3 separate regions of the Homo sapiens genome follow, and all the other regions are linked to region 3. The links come from fine-mapping of genetic effects on gene expression. A gene starts in region 3. Each other region holds a variant in brackets. All regions are shown on one strand. Distances are between the middles of the regions.

Evidence for each region.
Region 1: its variant is fine-mapped to the expression of LINC00487 in minor salivary gland (GTEx, PIP 0.99).
Region 2: its variant is fine-mapped to the expression of LINC00487 in testis (GTEx, PIP 0.94).

Annotation. Positions count from the first base shown.
Region 1 is chr2:5,866,643-5,874,825 of GRCh38, reverse strand. No RefSeq gene overlaps it. Among named protein-coding and RNA genes, the nearest start is that of LINC01810, 58 kb to the right of the region's middle. The variant T/G (reference allele first, on the strand shown) is at 4,669.
Region 2 is chr2:6,789,763-6,797,945 of GRCh38, reverse strand. It overlaps LOC105373404 (a long non-coding RNA gene), which reads left to right and starts at 1,012. Exons shown (of 4, transcript XR_922745.3): 1 at 1,012-1,198; 2 at 3,643-3,802; 3 at 6,978-7,071. The variant A/G (reference allele first, on the strand shown) is at 4,266.
Region 3 is chr2:6,766,770-6,774,952 of GRCh38, reverse strand. LINC00487 (long intergenic non-protein coding RNA 487) reads left to right here and starts at 4,642. Exons shown (of 6, transcript NR_038369.1): 1 at 4,642-4,874. It overlaps LOC105373404 (a long non-coding RNA gene), which reads left to right. Exons shown (of 4, transcript XR_922745.3): 4 at 1,570-2,130. RefSeq lists an enhancer at 587-1,786.

The sequences.
Region 1 (8,183 bases), 900 kb after region 3:
CTCCCATTCGATGACTTGTCTTTTTATATTTTCAACAGTGTCTTTTGAAAATCAGAGGACTTTATCTTTGAATAAGATAAATTTATATATTTTTAATTTGTATGGTTTTTTTTTTTGTTCTGTCTAAGAAGTCTTTGCCTACTTTAAAATTGCAGAATGTTTTCTGCTAGAATTTTTAGACTTTTAGTTTCTCCATTTAGGCCTAGGATCCAAGTAAGTCTTTAAATCAGTTAGTGTAAGTATTCCAACTTTCCCAACTCTTCAAGATATTTTGGATATTGTACATACTTTGCATTTCCATATGAATTCTAAAAACAGCTTACCAATTACTCTGAAAAGCCTGCTGAAATTTTTATTAGAAACATAATGAATCTATGAATCAATTTGGAGAAATGGATATCTTAGCATTACATATTTCATTTTATGAACATTGTCTGTCTTTTTACTTATTTAGACATTTTCTATCATTTCGTAGTAATGTTTTCTAGTCATTTTTACAGAGGTCTTGCACATCAGTCATAAAATTTATTTCTAAGTATTAGTGAGGCTCTTACAGATGATATTTTATAAAAGTATTTTTCCACTGTTTATGTTTTATATATTAATCATTATCTTACAGCCTTGCCAAATTCATTTATTCATCCTACTAGTTTTTTTTTAATATTCCTTAGAGTGTTCTACATAGATAATCATGCCCTTTGTGAAAAGCAACAGTTTTACCTCTTCCTTCCCAATTATTATCCCTTTATTTATTTTTCTTGCATTATCACTCTAGCTACGACCTCTTGCAATATTGAATAGAAGTGGTGAAAGTTGATACCCATGTTTTACTCCCAACCTCAGGAAGAAAGCATCCAGTCTTTTATCATTAAGTGTAATATTAGCTATAGGATTTATAAATACTTTTTTGTAGTTTGATGACGTTTTATTCTTCTTTGCTGAGAGTTTATTTTTTAAATGAATAAATAGACTCAGATTTTAATGCTGAATTTTAATAGATAATAAGGTTTGGCTGTATCCCCACCAACATCTCACCTTGAATTGTAGCTCCCATAATCCCCACGTGTTGTGGGAGGACTCAGTGAGAGGTAATTGAATCATGAGGTTGGGTCTTTCTCATGCTGTTCTCATGATTGTGATTAAATCTCATGAGATCTGATGGTTTTATAAAGATAATTTCTGCATGCGCTGTCTTTGCCTGCTGCCACATAAGACATGACTTTGCTTCTCCTTCACCTTCTGCCATGATTTTGAGGCCTCCCAAGCCATGTGGAACTGTGAGTCAATTAAACCTCTTTCCTTTATAAATTACCCAGTCTTGGGTATGTCTTTATTGGCAGGATGAGCGTGGACTAATACAATGCATATGGAGAACTTTTGCAATTAAAGATTAGAAATAATAATCTGTAATTTGTCCATTCCAGTGTGTGTGGCCAAGCTGTAGTTCACTTGTTCATTTACAGAATAATTCCCAATATCATCATGGCAACATTGATCTCTTCCTTTACCATTGTATTAGTCATCTAGGGCTGCTTTAATAAAATATCACAGAGTAGGTGCCTTAAGGAAAAAAAATCACTTCTCACAGTTCTAGGGGCTAGAAGTATAAGAAGAGTGTGACAGCAGGGTTGGATTCTGGTGAGGTCTCTCTCTTTGGCTTGCCGATGGCTGCCCTCCTGTTCTGTCCTCACATGACCTTTCCTCTGTGCATGACTGGTGTCTTTCTCTTCTTATAAGGATACCATGTATGGATTTTGAGGGAAAAAAATCCAATCTATATCAACCACCCCCAAAATATCTTGATGCAACTCAGAGAGTATGTTCATCCACACACACACTCAATTGTATGACTCCAATGAGAAAACCAAAGGAAAAGTAGTCTGTCTATAAACATTCGTCTTATCCACGTGTGATAAGATTGTAATAATGGATATACCTCTATTTCTTTGAAACTAAGGTGTTGCTGACTCTAAGTTATGTTTCAGTTTCAGAAATAAGAAGATGGGGTAGGGAGAGTGTATTTGGGAATCAATGAAAAACAGCATTCTTACGCAAGTGCCTTTCAGATTTGGGATATTAATAGATCCATAAATTCAAGACAAAACAAAAATTGATCATCACCCCACATTCAGGATATTTAAGCATTAAAACATAGGAAAGATCACTCTAAAAATAAATAGTAGTTCTTCCAACTAAGGAACACACATATGTATCTAAATTTATTTACATTTACAGAACAGTGCCAGCTGAGAGAATAGAATTTGGGAATCCCTTCTACAGAAAATGAAGAACTGAGATTTAAAGATCAAAGACACTAGGAAGGAGAGGAAAATGTGCTCACTGCAGTAAAACAGACTTGATCAATCTTTTGACTGTTTTATCAACTAAGGAAGGTGCAATGACGATGTGTCAGCTTTGGATGAACATTAAATTAGCAGAATTACTTCCAACATTCTGTCCATTACATGATCATAGGCCATGATAACAAAGAAGCAAGACTTATAGCAGCCAAAAGTAGAAATTAAGGTTCTGCAGAGATGTATCTGAGGTGGAATTTTTAGCCACTTCCACGATTCCAAGTGGAGAGGAAATTCCAGGGAAAGCCAGAGGGCTGGACTAGAAACAGGTGCATTTGTGAAGAAAAGAAAAAAGACATCAATTATTGTGTGTGCAAAATGTATGTTTTGCAGCCTCAGGTCACCTGGGAGTTCTCATTTATGTGGGCACTGTAGTAATTGACACTTTACATTTTTTTCACACAGTAATTCCATTAATTAGATATCTCTATATAACTTTATGCATAGAGTGCTGATTTAATATCATAGATTTCAAGTACTGCAGGTAATGAAGATACAAACCAGGCAACACTATACCATTCAACTCATTACTTGGAGGAATTTATAAAAATATGCTTAGAAGGAAGTAATTCACCTATAAAAAATTTATAACATTTACTGGGTCAACAGATTCCTATCATAGCAAGTTGAATCTACATTCATTAACTTGGTTCATTTCTGAAAATAATTGTCTTAGCCTCTTGCAAGCTCAAGAGCACATGAGTTCTCACCATTCCAGAGCAACTGTGTCTTGGCAGAAGCACCTGCAGGAGGGGGCACTGTGCTTAAGGAGGACACAGCCGGGGGAGAGAGGTTGGAATTGGCCTTAAACCTGAAATTCTTTCTCCCAGGCATTGATCGCTATTTGCTCACTGTCACAGACTTAGAGCTGCATGTATTTTGCCTTTGATCCTGAGAAATCCTAACAAGCTGAATTAAAAGCAAGTGGTCCTAGGAAGCCTCCATCACTGGTGTCCTGAACACCTGAAAGCAAAAAACCAAATAGCATGATGGGTCTCCAATTCAACAGCCACAGCCTGGGGCAAAAATACAAAAGCCCCATCTGCAGTAGGAATGCGGAGGACGCCTTCTTCACCTTTGTTCATTCCACCCAGGTAGGGCATTTACCGGGGCAGGATGATAAGCCAGGCACTGCAGGTAAGTAAAGACAAAGGAACTCCTAATGTAGACTCTTGGAAGCATCTCTCTGTTACCTTGGAAGGTTACTTAACTTCTCTGTGCCTCAAGTCGCTCATGAGAAAAATAGACATTATTATAGTGATCCACCTGATATGTTTGTGTGAGTGAGATGCATTAACTACTTGGCATATAGTACTCACAAATACTAAACGTAAATAAAATATTTAACATAGACATCAGCTATCATTATCACTGTCATCTTCATCACGTAATCCTATCAAAGATGTAATTGCCGTATTGTTATTATTTCCACTTTTCCAATGAGGAAATTAGGCAGCTTATTCAGAATCACAGAGGTCGTTAGGTGGCTGAAGCCAGTTTTTGTGTTCTCAGGTTTTTTCTACTACAGCCGTCTGGGGAAGGGGGAATGGGGAATGTTAGAGACAGAAACTGAGAGTAGAAAAGGAACTTCACGTGCATGCCAGGTACTTTACTTGTGTTACTCTATTTGATTCTCACAATACGCACATGGTCAGGCAGTGGCTGGATTTTAAGGTTTTGGAACTTGAGAGTAAGCAAGGCTACTTAATTTTCTTGCCATGGTAACAAAATTATATCAAATGGCTGAGAAAGACTTGAGCTCAGATGTGTCTAAAAGTAAAGATTATGCTTTTCTTTGACAGAAACAGAGTGAAGTTGAGATGTGACTGGTTAAGGCAGAGTTGGAGTGAAGGGTCAGAGCTATCCTGGAAAAAACATGACTGGCTTTACACTAACTTCAGTCACGCTATGGGACCTTTGGAGAGCACCGGCTCACATTCTAGCCTTGAGTCCTAGAGCTGCAGATCTTTCCCGAGACTTGGCCTGACACTGAAGGTCTAGAACAGAAACGAGAAACTCTAGCTTTCCAGATCACTTGCCTTTCCTTGCAGGAAGTATGAAGCTCTCCCCAGCCAGATCCTCGACTATTTCAGCACAACCATGATAACGCTATTGCAGGTTGCATTTTTGTGAGTTTGTAAATGCAAGACTGAAAAAAAAAAAAAAAGAACATAAACTCTGAACCGAGTCATTGAAATTGAATGTGTGAGGGAATTCTTGCCTGTAAGATGAAGGCAAGCTGGTTGGCCTTCACAGAAATGGCCGTACCCAAAAGCTGATCCGAAAAGCAGCATAGGATGTGGCCACAGGG[T/G]GAACTATACTTGGATTCTCACTGGAGCAGCTGTTGAGGGGCCGTGCACAGGAATGTCAGAGTGTGGGGGCCGCAGTGGCAATATGTCATGCGGCTCACATTCTAGCTGATCTCACAACAACTCTGAAGTCTGGTGAAGTTGGTGAGAGCTCCCAACTTCGCAGGCCTGGTGGACTGGGTTGTCTTAAATATTGCGCTCCCTGCAAAGCATGTATTTCTGCAACACTCAGATGGAATGAAAGTGATTTGAGAGATGATAAAGCATTAGTGTCCAAGTGAACTCCAGAGCATTAGTGTCCAAGTGAACCCTCCCTATGGCAAAGCTGAGGAAATAGCCCCGAGAGACAGAGGATAACAGGCTTGGGGTCACCAGTAGAGAAGCAAAGACGATCTTTCAGCTCAGATCCCAAATCCAGGCAGCTGTGTGGTTTTGGTTTGTTTCACAGTGCCACAGAAAATCTGAAACCCTCTGTATAACTGAGTGGATAGATGGGCAAGCAAACAGGACATCCAATTGTTCTGCAGATAAGGTGCAGGTGCCTCAGGACAGGTGGGCGTCAGTGAGGAAGAAGGAGGCTCTATCACAAATTGAGTTTAGAAGCTCTGGGCTTCATTTTTCCTAATCTGGACAAGCCACTCTCCTTCTCCGGGCCTCACTTCTTAAATCTTTAAAACGCAAGAAAGCAAAGAAATTTACAGCTCTGTGATTCCTAGTGTCCTATTTTAAAAACTTCTCTACCTCTCTAAAAAGATGAAAGGAAATATGGACAGAGTAAGGGACAGGAGAAGAGAGAATGTGTGAAGAAGAAAGAGAGATTCTGGCTTCAACAGCTACCAGTGTCGTGTTTCCCTTTTCTCTGAAAGCCAAGAGACCTTCAAATGCTTGCTTATTCCGGGGTAAGACATCCCCAGAGGCAACCACGCCTGGGGATTTTCCAGGGATCAGGAGCAATTAAAAGACACATAGCTTTCCATTTCCAGCAGGCCGCTTCCAGGGCAATCCCCGGAAGGCCTGGGAGGACACCGATACAAGAATGCAGTTGCACCCTTCCTCGAAGGAAGTGTCAGGGCCTGAGACCACAGCTGTGTCCCCACCCTCTTTTAGTCCTCTGCATAGTCTCATGGCCCTGGGACCTGTTGGGCATTCCTGGGTGTGGGCACAGATGCCTCTGACCACCACCCGGCAAGAAGTCTCTTGGGAAGAGTGTCCTACCCTATTTATAGCTGTTCCTCAGTTACTTTATTTTACCGTAGGCCACACAAAAAGCTTTGATCATAAGACGCTTCCGGGTAGCCTACTATTCCATGAGCCTGTAGACCAGACAGGGTAGAAAGCTCCCTGTGCCACTGTGTCCGGCTGATACTGCAGTCACAGATGTCTCCACCTCCTTTCTCACCACTTGGGCAGAAGATAAGTCAACACGAGGTCCCTGGGACTCCTTGACTGGCTGGCCCCTGCCCTATGTCCACTTATGTCCACACAGGCCATGATACTGTAAAGTCAGCGGTCCTTTCTGTAGTCCTGGGGTCTTCATGAGCCTTGGCACTTCCTCGTCTCTGCTGCCACATGCATCCTGCTCAGAGCAGCCCACACACAGGAAGAAAGCACAGGGCCAGGCCACATGGCGTCTCTCACAAGTGGGCAAACTTGACTTTTTATTGGTTAGAGTTGGTTGGCACCAGTTCTGACTTCAGTGAATATCTGGAAAGACTTAGATTACAGCTCAGCCTTGCCTTTCAGAAGGAGGTGGAGTGGGGTTTCAAAGACAGTCCTACAGGGCTCCATGCCTCCCCTGTTTTCTGCAGAGCACAACACCTCTGCAGCTCACTAGACCCCTCCATAGGGTTGCAGAAAGACCTAGATTACAGTTCTGAGGGTGAAATCAGATAACCAGCCTCAAGAACTAGGGCAAAACACAAGAATTTTGGGTGAGTTTCTGCATTTGTAAGTTGAAAGGAATTCTAACTAGATGATCCCAAGGACTCTCTGAGGACAGAAATCCCAGGATTCAATAAACTCTACTGTGCTGAGAATTCAGTAAGTGTAAAACACAGTTCTTATAAAAGATAGAGGCAAGAAGGTAGTTTTCATAAAAAAGAGGAGGTAATGATGATTTCTGTTTTCTAGAATCCAAACTGACCTTATTTGGAGCCAATGGTAACTTAAGTTGTAAGACTTTTAACAGATGCAAACAATTTGTCCTTGAATCTGGGGTTGCTCTGTATGGTGACAACTCTGGTGCTTTTCTATGTGAGGGATTAAAAAAACCTGAGTAACAGAGTGTCCAAAGTCGGGTGTTTGTATCTAATAGAAAGCTCTTGGCATTGTGTTCTGAGTCAGATCTCAAAGGCAATAGCAGGCCTGGCAGTAGGCACCATGGAAGCAGGCACTGGCCTTGTGAACTTCACCTTGTAGGATTACCCTAGCCTGTTTCTGTGGTCAGCTGTTCTAGAGTCATCACAACTGGTCTAGAGGTGTCAAAGATGCAGAATGAAGGGAAAGGAAGTCTTCATGAAGCCTAACGTTGAGGAGTGAGATGATAAGCAGACTATTTGGGAAAACTGGTATTATGCCAGTATCAGTAAAAAGGTTGCAATTGGTCTAGAAAGACCTAGAAACAAGATGGTTTTCACAGTGCACAACGAAATCTGATTCTAGCTCTATTACCTCAACCAGCTGTCTGACATTGGGGATGCTAGTCCCACTGTCTGGACCTCTGCAGCTTGGTCTGTATGATGCGGAATGGGGCTAACATGGCCTCAGCAGTTGCTTCAGCTTTGCCGTCCTGCCCTTCTCTGGCACAGACTCCCAGGGGCAGCCAGGGTTCTCACAGCCACCAGACACTGCACCCTCCTCGCTGCCTCCCACGCAGCAGATGGGGCTGCTAGATGAGAGCATGAGCAGGGCAGCAGCCGGAAGCATACACGCCCATTGGATTTCAGCTATTTCCATGCCCTGGTTCTGCCCACACAGGCCGCCTTGGCAGAAGTGTCGAGTCTGCAGCTGCTGCCCAGAGCACTTGTGGAGCCTGGTCAGCAGCCCCACCCTGCTGGAGTCCAGAGACGGACACCTAGGCAGCCCACACTGTTGTCTAGAACAGGGGCAAAGAGTCTCACCACAAAGATGGCCCGGCAGCCCAGCCCATCACATATAATGAAAAGATCACCCCTGGGAGTGTCCAGTAAACATTTAATGAAGGCAATCCCCTCTCGGCATGAGGATTTTTGGCTTTCTGAAATTGGACATTGGTGATGCTTTGAATCGGAATGCAGGGAAATGAAGACAGTAACTAAGCCTTCTTCATCCTTCTCCACCGTCCAGCAAAGACAACAGTTTGTCCTCAGAGTATATGGCAGGAGGGAGATGAGCCAACATCGAGAGCCCCACTTAATGACAAGTAAATCTTGTTCTGTACTGCCATGCTACTTTCTTTAATACTGATGTGGACCACCTATAGAGTGTTCTATAAAGCAGTAACTGCTTGCAGAACGTTGTTGACGCTCATGCACTTATG
Region 2 (8,183 bases), 23 kb before region 3:
GAATTTCGATAACCTCAGGATACTCTGTGGGTGAATGTGCTCTTCCAGGCTGAGGAAGCTATGCCTTCCCCACCACGTCTGGCCAGCTGTGGCCCAACCTCTGTTTCTGACCTGCACCCTTGACCACTCTTTCTGCTCTGGCCTTTGATGTTGGGCTCCACCGAGGCCAGGCCTCTGTTTTGCTTTCTTTTCACGTCTTGTCGATCATCTAAGACTCACAGCACTTGACTGTGGTGAGAATTAAAGGACATTATGGGTAAAGCACTTCTGGAGGGACTGGCAGTGTAAGACCTTGACAAGTGTCAGCTGCTCTCCCCAGGTTTCTCATTTTTAAAAATTTTGGTGCTAAAGTGCAGAAAGGCCCCATCCCAGGTCGGGTATTTGTGGCTCTTCTTTCTTGGTGCTTAGTGTCTTTAAAAGGGCATATGCTGTCCACAAAAACACATGGAAGAAGCCTGTAAGAAACCAGCTCAGAATGCTGCCGTCGGATTCCTGTCCCTCTTCTGATCTGCAGTTCCTGCCCTGCGATGAGATTTTCGGACCCTATCAGTTCTGCCCCTCTGCTTAAGAGAGTCTCTCCTGCACCCTGTTTTGATAACACATTTGCATGTACTTGTTTAGCTCAGTCTTTGGCCTTCACCCCTACACGAAGTCAGCTGCTCATCACCTTGCTTGAAAGGCTCAGAGAGCCACAGCAGTCTTCACCTGTTTCTATTTTTCTCTGATATAAATTGTAGACATTTTCTCATCTTCTGCAGAGAGCCCCATGATAATGTCAAACCCCCTCTTCCAACCAGTTTGCCTCTTCCAAGGCCATCTTGCATAGGAAATTTGGAGCCAATCTCTGAGAAGTAGAAACTGTTGGCCTCCATCTCAGTGGCAGGGGACTAACAAATATGCTTGCACTGACCCTGCATGCACACCTAGCTTCCCCAGACAGATGAGGCTGGACACTTTCTCTTCCTTCTGCACTTGCTGCTCTCATTGGGTTGCGCTTTCATTCTCTCCTTCTGCCTCTTTCTTGGTGATTTGATCATAAACATTGTGTGTTGGCTCACAAACCTGGGATTCCATCAGGCAGAATCCTGCCTGCAGGAGGGGGCAGGTGAGGATGCTGAGGGTGCGAGCATCTTCCTTTGTTGTCTCAGCATCTCTTTTTGAACCCAGGCATAAGAGAAGGCCCCTGTGTCATTGATAGGTAAGTTAAGACCAATAAAAGTATAAACATAACACATCTTAAAAACAGTGATATATCCTTTGTTTCTGAGAAAATACAGAGATGGCCTTAGAAAGGCTCTTGCACATAGGATGAAGCCTGAGCTGGTTTTAAAGCAAAGTGGTCTTTTTGATCATTTGAGAGAAGGGTGCTATCCTGGGCAGGGGAATGATATGAGCAAAGACAGGGATTCTAGAAGCTGAAACGTGTTGGGAAAGTGGAACAGGGAGCTGCAGGAAAAAGGAAAGTTGTTTGCTTACTGTGCATGAACCCAGAGTCTGCCACTCCCACATTCCCCGATCTTCTGGAGATTTCCTTTCTTTAAGATCTACATGCAGTGACCGAAGCGTGAAGCCACTTCCTAAGGGGAGCGTCCCCTTCTGTCCGAGGAGGCCCTTATTCTCATGGCCGGTGCTCGGGCCCCTGGATTCTTGCCCACCCACGTCATTGGTTCCCTGCCCACAGCCAGCATTTTACTCCTCGCTCCCCTCATTCTTTAAACTCCACCAACGCAGGCTTTGGAGAAACAGACTTTGCTGACATTTGGGAGCCATACAGTGGCCCCATCAGAGAACAGGCAACAACTTATGAATGACCACTAGAAATCCAGTCCAATCCACCACAGGCCATCCTGCCTGAGCTGCTCTCTCCTGAGCCTGCCTGACCCCATCACATCCTGGCCGACTCTCTCTCTCAAAACCTCTCTTCTCTCACTCTGTGTTTTCTCCTTTGTCTAATATCTCCACCAAGAGCAGGCAACAGTTTCTGTTGTTTACGATCAGAAGAGTTCATTTTTTTTTTCTAAACGTTTCTCATTTTGAACCAGTGGACCTTGACATTCACAGCCACACAGGCCCACTGAGGTCTTTTTCTTAAATAAAACAGCAACTTTTTCCTAAAGAGGCATTTGTCTTTCTTCTTAGACCACTGTTCTCCATCCTGGATGTGCATTACTGTCACCCGGGAACTTTTAGTGGCATCACCACCTGGGCTGCCATCTCTAGCGATGCTGATTTGCTTGGTTCCAGCTGGACTTGGGCACAGGCATATATTTTGTTTGTTCTGCTTTTGTTTTTATTTTTTTATTAATTTTTTTAAAAAGGGGATGGGCTTGTTGGAAAACATTCCCCAGGACATTCTAACACGCAGCCATAGCTCAGATCGGGAGTCGGCATCCTTTCTCCGTGAAAGGCCAGAGAGTGAAGATTTTCGACTCTGTGGGCCACATCAGGTCTCCGTCATAGATTATTCTTCTTCTTCGTCTTTTTTGATTGCTTGTTTTTAATTCCTTTACAAATATAAAAACCATTTTTAACTTGGGCCATAGCAAAGATAGGCTTTGGGCTTTTCTGACTGCTATTTTAGACCAACAAGTTCCATCTTTGGCCTTTCTTCATATAGTTCTATTTTCTTCTCCTTATGGAAAGTGGGTTTCAGGAGACTGGGCATTTTTAAAAATTTGTTTCCTTATCTTTAATGCAAAGGGATTGAATGTATGATCGCCTATGCTCCCTCCAGCGCTGAACTTCTCTCATTCTATTTTGTGGAGATGGCTGTGGTGAGCTCTTCTCAGGCCATGAGGCACGTGTGTCCTGGCCAGGAGTTCATCACAGCAGCCCACGAGGGGTGCATGGAAGATTCTAAGCTTTCAGGTGAAAAGATCTGGGTACCAATTCCAGCCTATCGTGTATAAGCCTCCCTCACTGCCCCATCTATGACTAGGATAATAACAGCGACTTGATAGGGCTGTTGTGAAGATTAAATAAGATGACGGAACCTGTGCAATAAAGTGGAAACAAGGCAGCTCCTTCGTCCAGGTGCCTCAGGTACTTGCTAACTGTGTGAGTTTGGGCAAATGCACTGCCCCAAGCCACGGTTTGCTCATGTGTAAAATGGGGATGATTATATCACCGCTTCCTTCAGAAGGCTGCGACAGTTAAATGGAGCAACCCATGTAAAGTGCGTTAGACAGAGAGGAGGCACTTAACAAACAGCTGCCATTAGACTTGCTGAGGTAAAAGAACCAGTTCAGTCACATGGCCCAGTGTAGGATCATGATCACGTGGTCAGAACATCAGCGAGAAGCTGAACAGTGCTTTTCTGTTGCTTCTCTAGGGTTTTTCCAACATATGCACAAAATCAGCAAAAATATATATAGAACCGAGGAGGCTCAGGGAAAATGACAGGCAGACATGCAGCTATTGCAAACCCGTGATGTGCCAGGCCCTGGGTTTCTTCCTGGAAATAGAGACATAAATAAGACACGGATGATGATCACCATCAAGGGTTCAAGGGCAGTGCATAGCTCTTTGTTCAAATCCACAGAAATATGACTCGAAGAAAGCATACGGTGGATAGAAAAGATCTTGCAAATCAGCCCTGTGTTCTTCTGTATCACAGTTCAGGAATGTCTCTTCTCCATGCAGGTTCATGGCACATCAACGAGTGTGACTGGGGAGTGCTGGCAAATCTACAGTTGAACTGCCTAATAATTTGTGGCATCAGAACCATGCAGGAGACAAACAAAATGACTTAGACCTTCTGTGTGATCTCACGAGGGTTGTGTTGTAGGGCTCCTGTAATAAGGTGAGTTATTATATCTGCGTAGTGCCGGGCAACATGCCTGGGCCTGCATGAGCTCCTCCTCTGTTCTTGGTCTCTCATTTGACATGAAGAATGAGAAGCAGACCGTTCCTGCATGCACTCACGTCTTCTGAGATCTATGGATCTCTGCTTTAGCTCTTCCCAGTTTACTATTTGATGAAGGAGAAAAGGAGAAAGGCACTAATAGGCACTAATCCTTTAACTTTTGACCAGTCTGTTTAACGACTAAAACTGCTCCTTGGAGGTTGACTTCATCCTCAGCATTTTACCTTTTTACTAATTTAGAAAACTAAAGTATAGAAGCTTTAATTTTTCCGGAGCCTCTGATCAGATAGTGGGAGAAACAACTTTTAAACTCTGGACTGTCTGCACCAAAAATCAAAGCCCTTTCACAATCCTACACAACTCTCCTACTTACCTCACAAGTAATTGAGCTTTAACAATA[A/G]AGAATATTTATAGAGTCCTTGCCTTGTGTGCTTACTGTATATACTGGAGTTTGTCATGCTCTCAGGAGGGAGGGTTTATAAGTGACCACACCAGTGCTACTTCACAGGCTAGGGAATTGCGTCACAGAGCAGAGTTTAGAAGCTTGCTTAAGGTGATGCAATTAATAGGTGGGAGAGTTAGTGTTTGAAGTAGCCAACGGGCCTGTTGTTTTTAAGAGCTGTGCTATAGAATCTCTTTTTGCTTGATTTTTGTCTCTAATCTTCTTGGTCTGGTCACAAGTTGCATCTCTATCGACAAATTGAAGCAGTTATCTAGAGTTTTCTGCCCTGGATTTTTAATAATTCATGCAAAGACCTTAGTCTGTTACTGAGGATAACATACTTGCCATGTGGAAAATGAAATAGGAGTCCATTCTTTAAAAATATGTGCTCCAAAGTGCAGATCCTCAATCTTTTCTTCCTGCATTCATCTATGCAAGACTTGAGACTAGGGAGACCCTATTTAAAACACTTGTTTATAGCTCCGTATCTCTTGTATTGGTTGGCATTCCCTGGTTAAATAAAATTCCCAGATGGACTTTATTTTTTCTTTCACCATTCCTCAAGTCAGAGAGTGACAGCACAAATTGAATGTGAGGCGTGATTGGAAGGATCCTCATTTCGTGTAATTTAGAAACAGAGACAGTCTGAATGGCTCGCTGATTTAATTACAGGATGTAAAAGTGGGTGAGACATGGCACAGCACTGACGGCTGATGGAGGCCTCCACTGTATATCCTTGTTTTCATCTCCCACAATTATTCGGACAAATCTTATGGGGAAATTTTGATGTGGCAACAGTAAACAGATGCTTTTCTTTAACTGCCAGGGTAAATTACCAGGTAATTTTGCTGGAAACGTGTGTCAATACAACACGGTCTCTCTTCCTGTCTGTGTTTCCGTCTTTCCTCCTTCCTCCTCCCTGTAGCCTTTCAAGACTGTCTCTGTTAGCAGAGAAATGGAGAGAAGCAGAAACCTTCTCTTTCATAAGGTATTTTCTGAGGATGCAATTTCTCCCTTTGCAGCCAAGTGGCATTTCTGAGCAGGATGTTAATGAGCCCAGTGCAGCCCTTGGTAGGCAGCAACTGACCAGCAGAGCTGGAAGTGTGCTCTTGGCTTTCAGAGATATCTCCAGTGATGCTCGTAGCCACCAGTTTTCCAGTTTGGTGGTGAAGCTGTGACTCAGAATTGAAGCCTATGGTAATTTTATCTCATCTTTCATTTTGGCCTCGGCCCTAAAAGTTCTGAAGAATTGATTTCAGACTGTGGAAAATCAAAGAACAAAATCTCATTTTATTCTGGAAACCATAGCAGGACCATCCACACCACTGCCCTGGCTCCTGACCTCATGCAACACTCCTGGCCTACATGCTTGGCCTGGCACTGCCGGCTGGTCCTTCTCACCACACCATGCTGTGTTGGTGACCTCAGCTGAGGCATTCCCTTAGCAGTGACTCAATGTGTTTCTTCAGTTTGTGCATTTATCCAGCAAGGAGGACATAGCTCTGTGGATAACCTATGGATCAATGACTCCATGGACAATGGTGGTTATGGACTAAAGTGTCACCAATGCCACCAAATGAGAAGCACTGGGATGATGTAGCAGAAGGAGCTTCCAGGGCAGCTGTGACAAATCGCAGAGGCAGTTGTCCTCATCTCACCCTGCACTTTATTTGCAGAATCTCCAGGATAGCTGACTGGCTCACTTTGCTTCCAGTAATTGCCTTCCTTCAGCCATCAACTTAAACTTGATCATCTGACGGCTCCCTCTCCATGGGCAGCGGGTCTCCCTAGGCTGCCACCTGTGGGCCAGTGTGGGTCAAGTCCTCTCTGACTGTATCTCTTTGCTCCTGCCAAGCTGTGCTGCAGACACACCCTCTGTCCCATGATTTTGGCATCCCGGTTCTCTCTGGTCCCTTTCTAGGGCCTCCCTTCCACCCTCAGGTGCTGTCATCATAGCTGGAGAAGGCATCTGGAGCACTCTTCAGGATGCACACTCTCTTGTTTGGTGAACCCCAGTATCTTTCTCTTTCTTCAAGAAGTCGCCAGAGTCTTCCATCCTCCTGGAAGCTTGCCTTAAGCTCTCCACCCACTTTTTTTCTTCTTCAGTTTTTTTTTTCTCTTCGCTCTCTCTTTCTTTCTTTCCTTCCTTTCTTTCTTTCCTTCCTTCACCTCCCCTCTCTTTCTCTTCCCTTCCCTTCGCTTATCTCCCTTTCTTTCTTTTTTCTTTCTTTCTTTCTTGCTTGCTTTCTTGCTTTTTTTTTTTTTCTTCCTCAGAGCCTCACTGTGTTGCCCAGGGTGGAGTGCAGTGGCACAATCTCAGCTCACTGCAACATCCGCCTCCCAGGTTCAAGTGATTCTCCTGCCTCAGCCTCCTGAGTAGCCAGGACTACATGTGCCCGCCACCACAACCAGCTAACTTTTGTATTTTTAGTAGAGACGGGGTTTCACCATGTTGGCCAGGATGGTTTCTTTCTTTCTTTTTTGACAGGGTCTCTTTCTTTTTTGACAGGATCTCTCTCTGTCACCCAGGCTGGAGTGCAGTGGTGTGACCTCAAGTCACTGCAGCCTCTGCCTCCCAGGCTCAAGTGATTCTCGTGCCTCAGCCTCCCAAGTAGCTGGGACTATAGGAACGCACCACCACACCTGGCTAATTTCTATATTTTTTTGTAGAAATGGAGGTCTCATCATGTTTCCCCGGCTGGTCTTAAACTTCTAGACTCAAGCATTCCTCCTGCTTCAGCATCCCAAAGTGCTGGGATTACAGGTATGAGCCACCCTGCCCGGCTTCTCAACCCACTTAACAGTAGCAACTGCCACCATTGCCATTTGCTGTCCTCATAATAATACTGTGGCATAGGTATTATTATTCCCATTTTGTGGGTAAGAAAATAGAGGTTCAAAAAGACTATGATTTGCCTAAATTAATAATTCGGTAATAATTGAAAATAACAAGCTTTAAGTGCTTATGTGCCATATAGTGGGTTAAGTTTTTCATATAGATCGTCTCATTTAATTCTTTAAAAACCCCATGTCAAACCCCATTTGACAGATGAAGAAGTGAGTCTAAGAGAGATATAATTAATGACAGAGCGGGATTTGAACCTTATTGACTCTATTTTAACTGCCAGCCTTGCTCCATATTTCATTTTCTGAAATATTATCCCAAATAGTTCAGTAACTGGCAGTTATTATTATTGTCACTTTTAAAAAAGTGTTAAAATTTTGGGGAAAAACTCCACTTTATTCCCAGTCTGGCCCCTAAGGCTTGTTCTTTTATTTTTAATTGGCAAACAATAACCCCTCTGCTTTCTTGAAAGGAAACTAGATATTGTAGGAGGCAGCATCAGTTTGCCTGCCTTTCCCAGAGATAAGACCACTGAAATGCATACTTTGTGCAGGTGAATACAGATTAAAAGCTGACTAGATGATAGTAAAAATGGAAATAAATAAAATGACAATTTGTCTCATTTCATATTTGTCTAATTACTCCAGTTGAGATATAAATGTGTCACAAAAATATAGCTTTTACTCACTCATATTTTGCATCTTAATTTCCCAGTTCAGCTTTTTCTGCCCCTAAGTATGTAACTCTTATATACTCCAGTGCTTTAGTAATAGCCTTATCCAAGCTATTGACATGAAAATAAGGAGTAATGTATACTCAATTGTACATAATAGGGTTGTAATTCCGTGGAGAGATGCCTGAGTGCTTTCCTAATGCCATGAGAAATTCAACGTGGAATTACAGGCTTGAGTTAATGTGCAAGAGTATCGGGTTGGTTCGTGTGCAGCTAGATGAGCTGACTTTTCTGCAGGATGCTACTACCAATGCAGCCCCTCTAGAGAGCAATGCTGAAGGGGAAGTAGAGGCTACAG
Region 3 (8,183 bases):
GGATAATTGATTCATAGCCAATCATTGACTCACACTCTTCCCATGCATGGTTTCCTTTAGGCTCCAGCACATTTTTTTTTACAACAAGGTGGTACAATGATAAAAACACCACTCTGCTGTTAGACCACGGATTTCAGTCCTTTGTACATCCTAAGAGTTCTGATAATCCAGGAGGCTGGGGGCCATGTTTTCCACTCAAATTGCCCTGGTGCTGAAATGCACCACGTATAGCGGACACTCAATTAGTGTTTGTGGGCACCAATGAGTGACTATAACTGAGTGATTTAATTCTCTGGAAGAGCTATTTTAGGTTATATCTTATGACATTTTTTCATAGTTGTTAATTTTTGGCCAATAAAACAGCAATTTTACACGATTTAACCTAGTAATTTACAGGACTCACGGAATAACTTTTTGAAATAACACACTATGTGAGATTTTTAAGAGGCATCACTAAGTAATTAGCTGAAAACTTGCAGGAACTACAACAAAAATACTGCAAACTTTTCCCCAGCCCAAACTTTCATTTCATGGATGAAAACAAAACAAAATAACAGCCCTCTACCTAAATCAAGGGATTGCTCCTGTTGATTTGGAGAGATAAGGCCAGATACGGAGAGATGAAGTCAGATCGTGGATCCAAGTATTTTGCCTTAAGATTCAGGTCCTTTCTGCCTTAACATTCAGGTTTTTCTAATTTGAAAACAAGCCAATTCACTAATAAGGGTTTCTAAAGCATCCACAATATGAGGAAAGAGCTATGGGGAGAAGAATACAGGAAAATACAGAGATCCATCTTGACAACGTGATCAATCAGAAAACCTAGAAGTGAGAATCATCAGCTTTCATGGAGCGTTTGGAGAAGAGGCTTGTTGGCGCAGGAGGGCGGGGTCTGCGTTGCGCTTACAGGTCTGTAAAGAGAGAAAGGGGACATTTAGGCGGAAAGGTACAGTGGAAATGGCATTAGGAATAGAGGCAGGGGTTCAAAAGGAAGCTGGGTGGTAACAATACTCCCATTTCTTTCGAGTTCATCAATTAGAATCACTTTCTCTGCAAATTTGACTTCACAGGTGATCCGCTTCACAGATGAGGAGGCAGGAATGCCCACAGGGGATTCACCCATCGTCATCAGCCACACGCGGGAGATGTAGGGCCAGATTTCTCCCTCCATCTGTGTGATCCCCAATCCTGTGACACTCCTGCTTCCTTTTCCCGTAGTGGGGGAACTCCCTCCAAATGGAATTTCAGTTGCTTAGATCTTTGAATTGGATAGTACTACCTATGCTCACACTAATTAAACAATTAAGTCGATGCATTTAATTTTATTTTCCCCTGGAAGATGTAATCACCAGTATCGTTATTGAGGAGGGAGGAGGGGAGAAGAAAACTCCAAACAGCAGAAAACATTCCTGAGTTCTGTGCGCAGTGCCTTTGATGGGTGTGCTCAGATTTTTTTCATCGAGGTGGTTTTGAATCAGTTGCAGGCCTTCTTTCATGTGGGTAACTATTTAAAGATGTGATATTCGGGGCAAGCGTTTGTACCAACTCATTTTCTCTGTCTTCTCCCAGGCCGCTGAGGACCGCACAGGGGAGCGGGCGGCGGCATCGCGAGGACTGACCACTGGGTGGCACTGTTGCTCCATGGAGAGCTGCCAACGGCGTCCCCGGGGACCCGGCCACGTTGAGCACAAAAGGTGGGATTTCTAAGGTGTGCTCGGTGATGAGTTTCTTAATGAATTTACCTCTTCTATGGAATCTCCCTCTGCAGCGTCTCCTGCCGCCCGGGGCCGGTTTCTGACTGTGGACTCTGGGTTGAGCCCATGGGGTCAGTGCGCGTGGAGCTTGCACTGCCCAGACCCACAGCCCCAGGAGCAGCCACCTCCCGTGTCACCCGGGCGGCGTCCTGATGACATCACTTAGAAGATTAAAAATAAATTGAAGCACATGTCACCTTAAAGGGGGCACAAAAAGGACATCTGCATGATTTGATGCATCCATGAGAAAGGGCTGCTGGCTTTTGATTTAAACTGTTGGGAAAGAGGATTTTAAAGCTTGTAAGCTGCTAGTATTTCCAAAAGAATGACTATTTTTTATTTTTTATTATTTAAATTAAAAAAGCACTTCCCTGTTCCCCTGTCCCTACACTCTAATTCTTCTTGGCTTTGATTTGGGCGATATTGTAGGCAGCTTTCTGCTCCACGGTGAAGGTCTGCCCGAGGAAGGACGGGGACAATCTTGGGGAAGATGGGGGAGGCGGGGACCGATTTTCCAGCCCAGAGCTGGGGTCTGCAGAACCAGGAGCCCGGGCCAGGCTGGCCTATCAGCCATGACCATCTGTGCACCTTAGCCACCTACTCACAGCACAGCCTCCATCTGCAGATCCACCTAGGACTCATCCATTCCTGACTGGTCTTTTGTTTCAAAACCCGGCAGCCCCGGCCCCTCCCAAGCCTGAAGTCACCACACACGCCCATCCTCCCATCAGTCACTTCCTGGCTAATGGGGACTGAGGCCCAATCATTCTCGTTTTTCATGCCTTGTCAGAGGCCTGAACACAGAGACAGAGGAAGGGAGAGAGAGAGAGAGGGCAGCTCTGGAGGAGGCGCAGAGTATGGGCAGATGTCCTCATGAAAAATTTACAAGGAATAATCAGAGGCCCCTTCTCTCCCCTCTGGCCAAAGTCCCCCTAGGCTTGTTGCCCGGGCCGCTGTGAGAATATTGGAAAAGTCCCCCTCGTTTTGAAGGCAATCTGGTTCTGGGGGGTTAATGCCCAGCGTTGATGCACTTGGCTGTCCTCTTGAGACCGGGTTGCAAATGCAGTTCAGGCAAAATTGATGAAGTATCAGTTAATCTGAGGCTGACAGTTTAGAGAGGTCACAGCTGCGAGGGGCTGCCAGGGTCTCCCAGAGACAGGACTAAGAAGAGTTAAAGCCAGGGAGGGCCCGGTGAAAGGAAGCATTCATCTTCTTCGCCTGGGCATTTCTCAAACATTGCGCCTGCCAGGATCCCTGAGCCTCTCTCCAGGTGAGCAGTGTGAGTGGGGAGGCTTTCACTCTGGTGCGCACAGTCATGCCTCCTCCCAGACAAATCCAAACCCACATGCCTGGTGTTCCTGGCTCCTTGGGAAGGAAGAAGGAGGGAGTTGCTGCTCCTAATTGAAACAGGCAGTTAGGTCTCCTATGCAAATCCCCTTGCTGTAATTGGCACTGTGAGTGCCGCCTGCTCATTCCTCCGTTTCCCGCTAGGGGAAGGTCATCTTGGTAAGAGATGTGTCCACACGGGGTGGGCTCTGAGCTGCTCAGAAGGAACTCTGCAGAAGTGGGGAACCATTGACTCACACCCTTCCCATAGGTGGTTTCCTTCAGGCTCCAGCAATTTTTTACAACAAGGTGGTACAATGAGAAAAATACCGCTCTGCTGTTAGACCACATATTTCAATCCTTGTACTTCCTAAGAGTTCTGATAGTCCAAGAGGCTGGGGGCTATGGCCATGTTTCTCACTCGAATTGCCCTGGTACTGAAATGCATCACGTGTAGGGGAGACTCAGTGTTTGTGAGCACACACTGAGTGACTATAACTGAGTGATTTCAGAGAGACAGAAGAAGGCATGCAAATGCACTTGTCTTGAGTTGTTTTCTAGGGGACATGCTCAGGGCTCTGGGACCTACCTAGTCATCTCGCTGCCTGGAGAGGCGGCTGCTTGGCCATGTTATCTCCATGCCTTCTAAATTAGGATGCGGCTTTAGGTTCACATTCATAAATAATTGGGTTTTATGGGATAGGAAGCAGCAAGGGCTTTGCGTTGATCGGCCCTGGGTTGGGTCCTGGCCTCCCTAAGCTTTGAGAATGATTTTATCATCACCATTGCCTGCTTATGGGAAAATAGGGCGGCAGTTAGTCGTGGAGTCCCTGTGACAAAGTGGCAGGTGGATGGCTGCGCCGGGGGTCTAACCTGCGCTGTCACACTCCGTTCCCTCTTCCTTTCAGTGACAAGAATGCAAGTAATAGTGCTGAGAATCGTGTGCTCAGCTGTGCTGGGCTGAGCATTTTATGTGCATGAACTCATCCCTCCCTGCGAACTTGTGAGAAAGGTATTATTATTATCATTATTAATATTATTATTACCGTATTCTCTCTGCTTACAGACAGAGAGATTGAGGTGTGGCAAGTAGGTAGTAAAATCCACCTTCTTCTTCTGTGAGGTTCCTCCTGTTCCCAGGGGTGTGGGGACGGTGAGTGGTGGATGGGTGAGGTCTTACAATGCAAAACTGCTGATTTCTACATCCGAAAAAAATCATGAATATGAACGATTATAGCCAGATTGAAACTATCATTATTTTCGGTAAGAAAAAGTGCGTCTATTCACAGAAAGTCAGGTACTTTTCCCCAAAATCACATGGGAAAAGTGTGCAAATACAGAACAGCCCTTCCAGGAAGGAACTATTTTCTCCGAAACAGGAAATTGTTGTACATTCAGACACACCATAAATACACGTCTAGTTTGTACATGGCAATTCCAGGGTCTGAGGCTCTTCCTTCCTGGCCCTAGAATGGCGTCTCTTGCGCTGTGGGCTTCCTGTTGAGGCAGGGGCTGAGGAGGTGGGAAGCAGAGGCTGAGATTTTCCTTCACCACGGTCACAGAAGATGCGCTGTTCCAGGGGCCTGGGTGGGAGCAGCCCAGGAGCCTGCGTCTCCCCTCCTCGGCCCTGGGAGGCGGCTGGACTGTGCCACACGGGACGGGTGCTGAGGGACCGCTGGGTGCCCACCTCCCTGACCCCTCCTGCAGGGGTGCCTGCCAAGCAGCCTGGGCACTGCCGTCTGGAAGATGCGCCGTGCCGGTTCTACACGGTGTTCCCTTGCTCCAGGCAGAAAGGTCAGTCCAGGCTTCTCACTCCATCGTGGCCAGAAGCCAAGTCTCATGGCATGAGATTCAACCAAAGAGAATCTCCTGGAGCTTCTTTACCTCATCAGACTTATATCCCACACAACACACACACACCCCCATCCATAAATGTGTGTATGTATATACCACACACGTACACACACATATGCCACACACATGCACACCACACACACAGAATGAATACACATACACCACACACATAAACACACACGTGTGTATGTATATATCACACACTTAAACACACGCATGCCACACACGTGCACACCACACACACAAAATGAATACACAGACACCACACACACAAACACAGAGATATCACACACATACATACACACACCATGCAACACACAAACATGCATACACATATTCCACACACAGAAACACACAGACACCACACATATACACACAGACATGCATACACACAACACACATATAAACACACAAATGCCACACACCAACACATGCCACACACAAACATGCACACACATACACCACACACATAAACACACAATACCACACACATACACAGACACTAACACACACTACACAAACATGCACACACATACACTACACACAAAAATACACAGATACCACACACATACACAGACACTAACACACACTACACAAACATGCATACACATACACCACAGATGTAAACACACAGATACATACATACACACACACCAACACCCACACTACACACATAAACACATGCATCATATGTAACACACATTACACAGACTTATATCCCACACAACACACACATACCCACATTCAACACACACACTTGCTCACACCCCTTCCCACACAATCCAACACACACACCCCCACATTCAACACACACGCATGCTCACACCCCTTCCCACACAACCCAACACACACACACCCACATTCAACACACACACTTGCTCACACCCTTTCCCACACAACCCAACACACACACACCCACATTCAACACACACATATGCTCACACCCCTTCCCACACAACCCAACACACACACACACACGCCTCCACGTACATCTTTTTATGGTAGTTATTTTTTTGTAAGTAAAATATTTGTATAATATCAGCTTATTGTTTGCCATAGCATAACTTATTTCAAACTTGTCCAACCTGCAGCCCATGTGGCCTGGGGTGGCTTTGAATGCAGCCCAACCCAAATTTGTAAACCTTTTAAAAACATTGAGATTTCTCAGCTATGATTTTCTTTAGCTCATCAGCTATTGCTAGTGTGGTGTATTTTATGTGTGGCCCAAGACAATAATTCTTCTTCCAATGTGGCCCAGGGAAGCCAAAAGACTGGACGCCCCTGAATTATGTGGTTCTCATCCTAGGTGATTTTGCCCCTGGAGGTAGGTGGAAAGTCTGGAAACATTTTTGGCGATCGCAGCTGGAGGGGGCTCTTGGCATCTACGGGTGGAGCCAGGGTTTAGGGTGTGTGCAGCACCAAAGGCTCGATGCCTCCCCAACACCAAAGAACCCTCTGAGCCCGTAGTGCGGAGACCAGAAACCCGATTTCAATTTCCTAGTAAAAGAAAACGGAAATGAAAACGACAAAACGGTCCTGTGTCTTCTCTCTTCTCGGTGCAGCTATCTGGATGGGGCGACTTGGAATTCCGAGTCTAGGCCTTGCACTGATTTTCCCCCCTGACATCTGGGAAGCCATTTCACTGTTTAAAACCAAAGATGCTGAGTGGCAGCTGCCACCAATTGGAAGGGGACAGGAGAAAGGGATTTTTATGAAGAGCCTGTGTGCCTTGGATGCTGCAGGTGGAGACCTCTGCAGTTTGTCCAGCAACTGCCTGCCAGAGATGGGCCAGAGAAGGGCCAAGCAGCTCCCTCCTATCGGAGGTCCACAGGTGGACCCCCACCCCCAGTCTCCATCCCCGGTCCACGCCCCAGTCCCTGCTGGTGGGGAAGCTGGGGAGCAGGCCATGCGTGTAATTCCAGAAGCTATTGCATGGCAAAGGCTACGTGCCCTCAAAGCCCGGGCACCTCCCTGGCCCCACAACTGCTTCACACAATACTTGTGTTTCTGTACGTTCTATGTGAAGTTTCAGGAAAGAATCTGTAAGTGATGTCTAAAGCAAGTTTCTGAATATTTATGCTGTAATACACGGCCATGAGCATGCTGGCTACTCATTTCTAATCCTATGACAAATGCACAAGGGCAGGTACTGGGAGAGTGAACTGTTTCCCTGGCCAGGGACCCAAGCACCACTTGGGGCATCAGAAGGAAGCCCTCTGGTTTTGGCCAAGGAGAAGCTTGCACTGTTTTACTAGAAACGTCCTATGTGAATCCATCCTCTGTGATTCCACGACTTTGTATGACTTGCTTGGTGCTTCCAAGGACGTAGGAACTGAAGGGTGGGGCATGTTCTGTGCACTTTTGTCATGGGAAAGCTGGCTTTTGGGAAACCCCCTGGCCCCACAGTTGCTCCCAGAAGCCATACTGGGGGAAGGGCCTGGGGAATGTTCCCAGAGGGTCATGTTGCCTTGATTCATCCTGATGGGGATTTGGGGAAGGGCGAGTGACACCATCATGACTGGGTGCGCCCAGACTGCCTGTCTGCCCTGCTATTTAGAAGCAATATTAGCGAGGGCTATAGTTTTTTTTTCTTTCTTTTTTTTTTTTTTTTTTAATCAGTAAAAATGAGTTCCTAACTTTAGTTCAGAGTCTTAGTTAGGTTTCAGTTTCAGAGAACTCTTTCAAAAAAGGGAATATGTTAGAAGGCCCACAGTGGCCCTTAATAATTTTGAATTAGCGTTAGAATGAGACACCTGATGGCAGTGATTCCGAGTGGAGACCCTGGGCCAGCGTCCCCAGCACCGCCTGGGAACCTGTGAGAAGCACAGCTTCTGGGCCACACCGTAGAGCTGTCTTTACATTTTATACCTCTTCAAACACCGCATAGTCTCACTCATAAGTGGCAGTTGAACAATGAGAACACGTGGACACAGGGAGGGAATATCACACACTGGGGCCTGTTGGCGGGTGGCGGGGCTAGGGGAGGAATAGCATTAGGAGAAATAACTAATGTAGATGAGGGGTTGACGGGTGCAGCAAACCACCATGACACGTGTATACTCATGTAACAAACCTGCATGTTCTGCACATGTATCCCAGAACTTAAAGTATAATATAAAAAGAAAAAAAAATTTATAACTCTTCCAGCAGTTTCTATCCATAGCACATAGAGCTTGTGTTTTGGTTTGGTTTTGCTTAATTTTCACAAGCCTGCAGTTGAAAGTGAAATGAGATGAGGTTAGCGAAAAG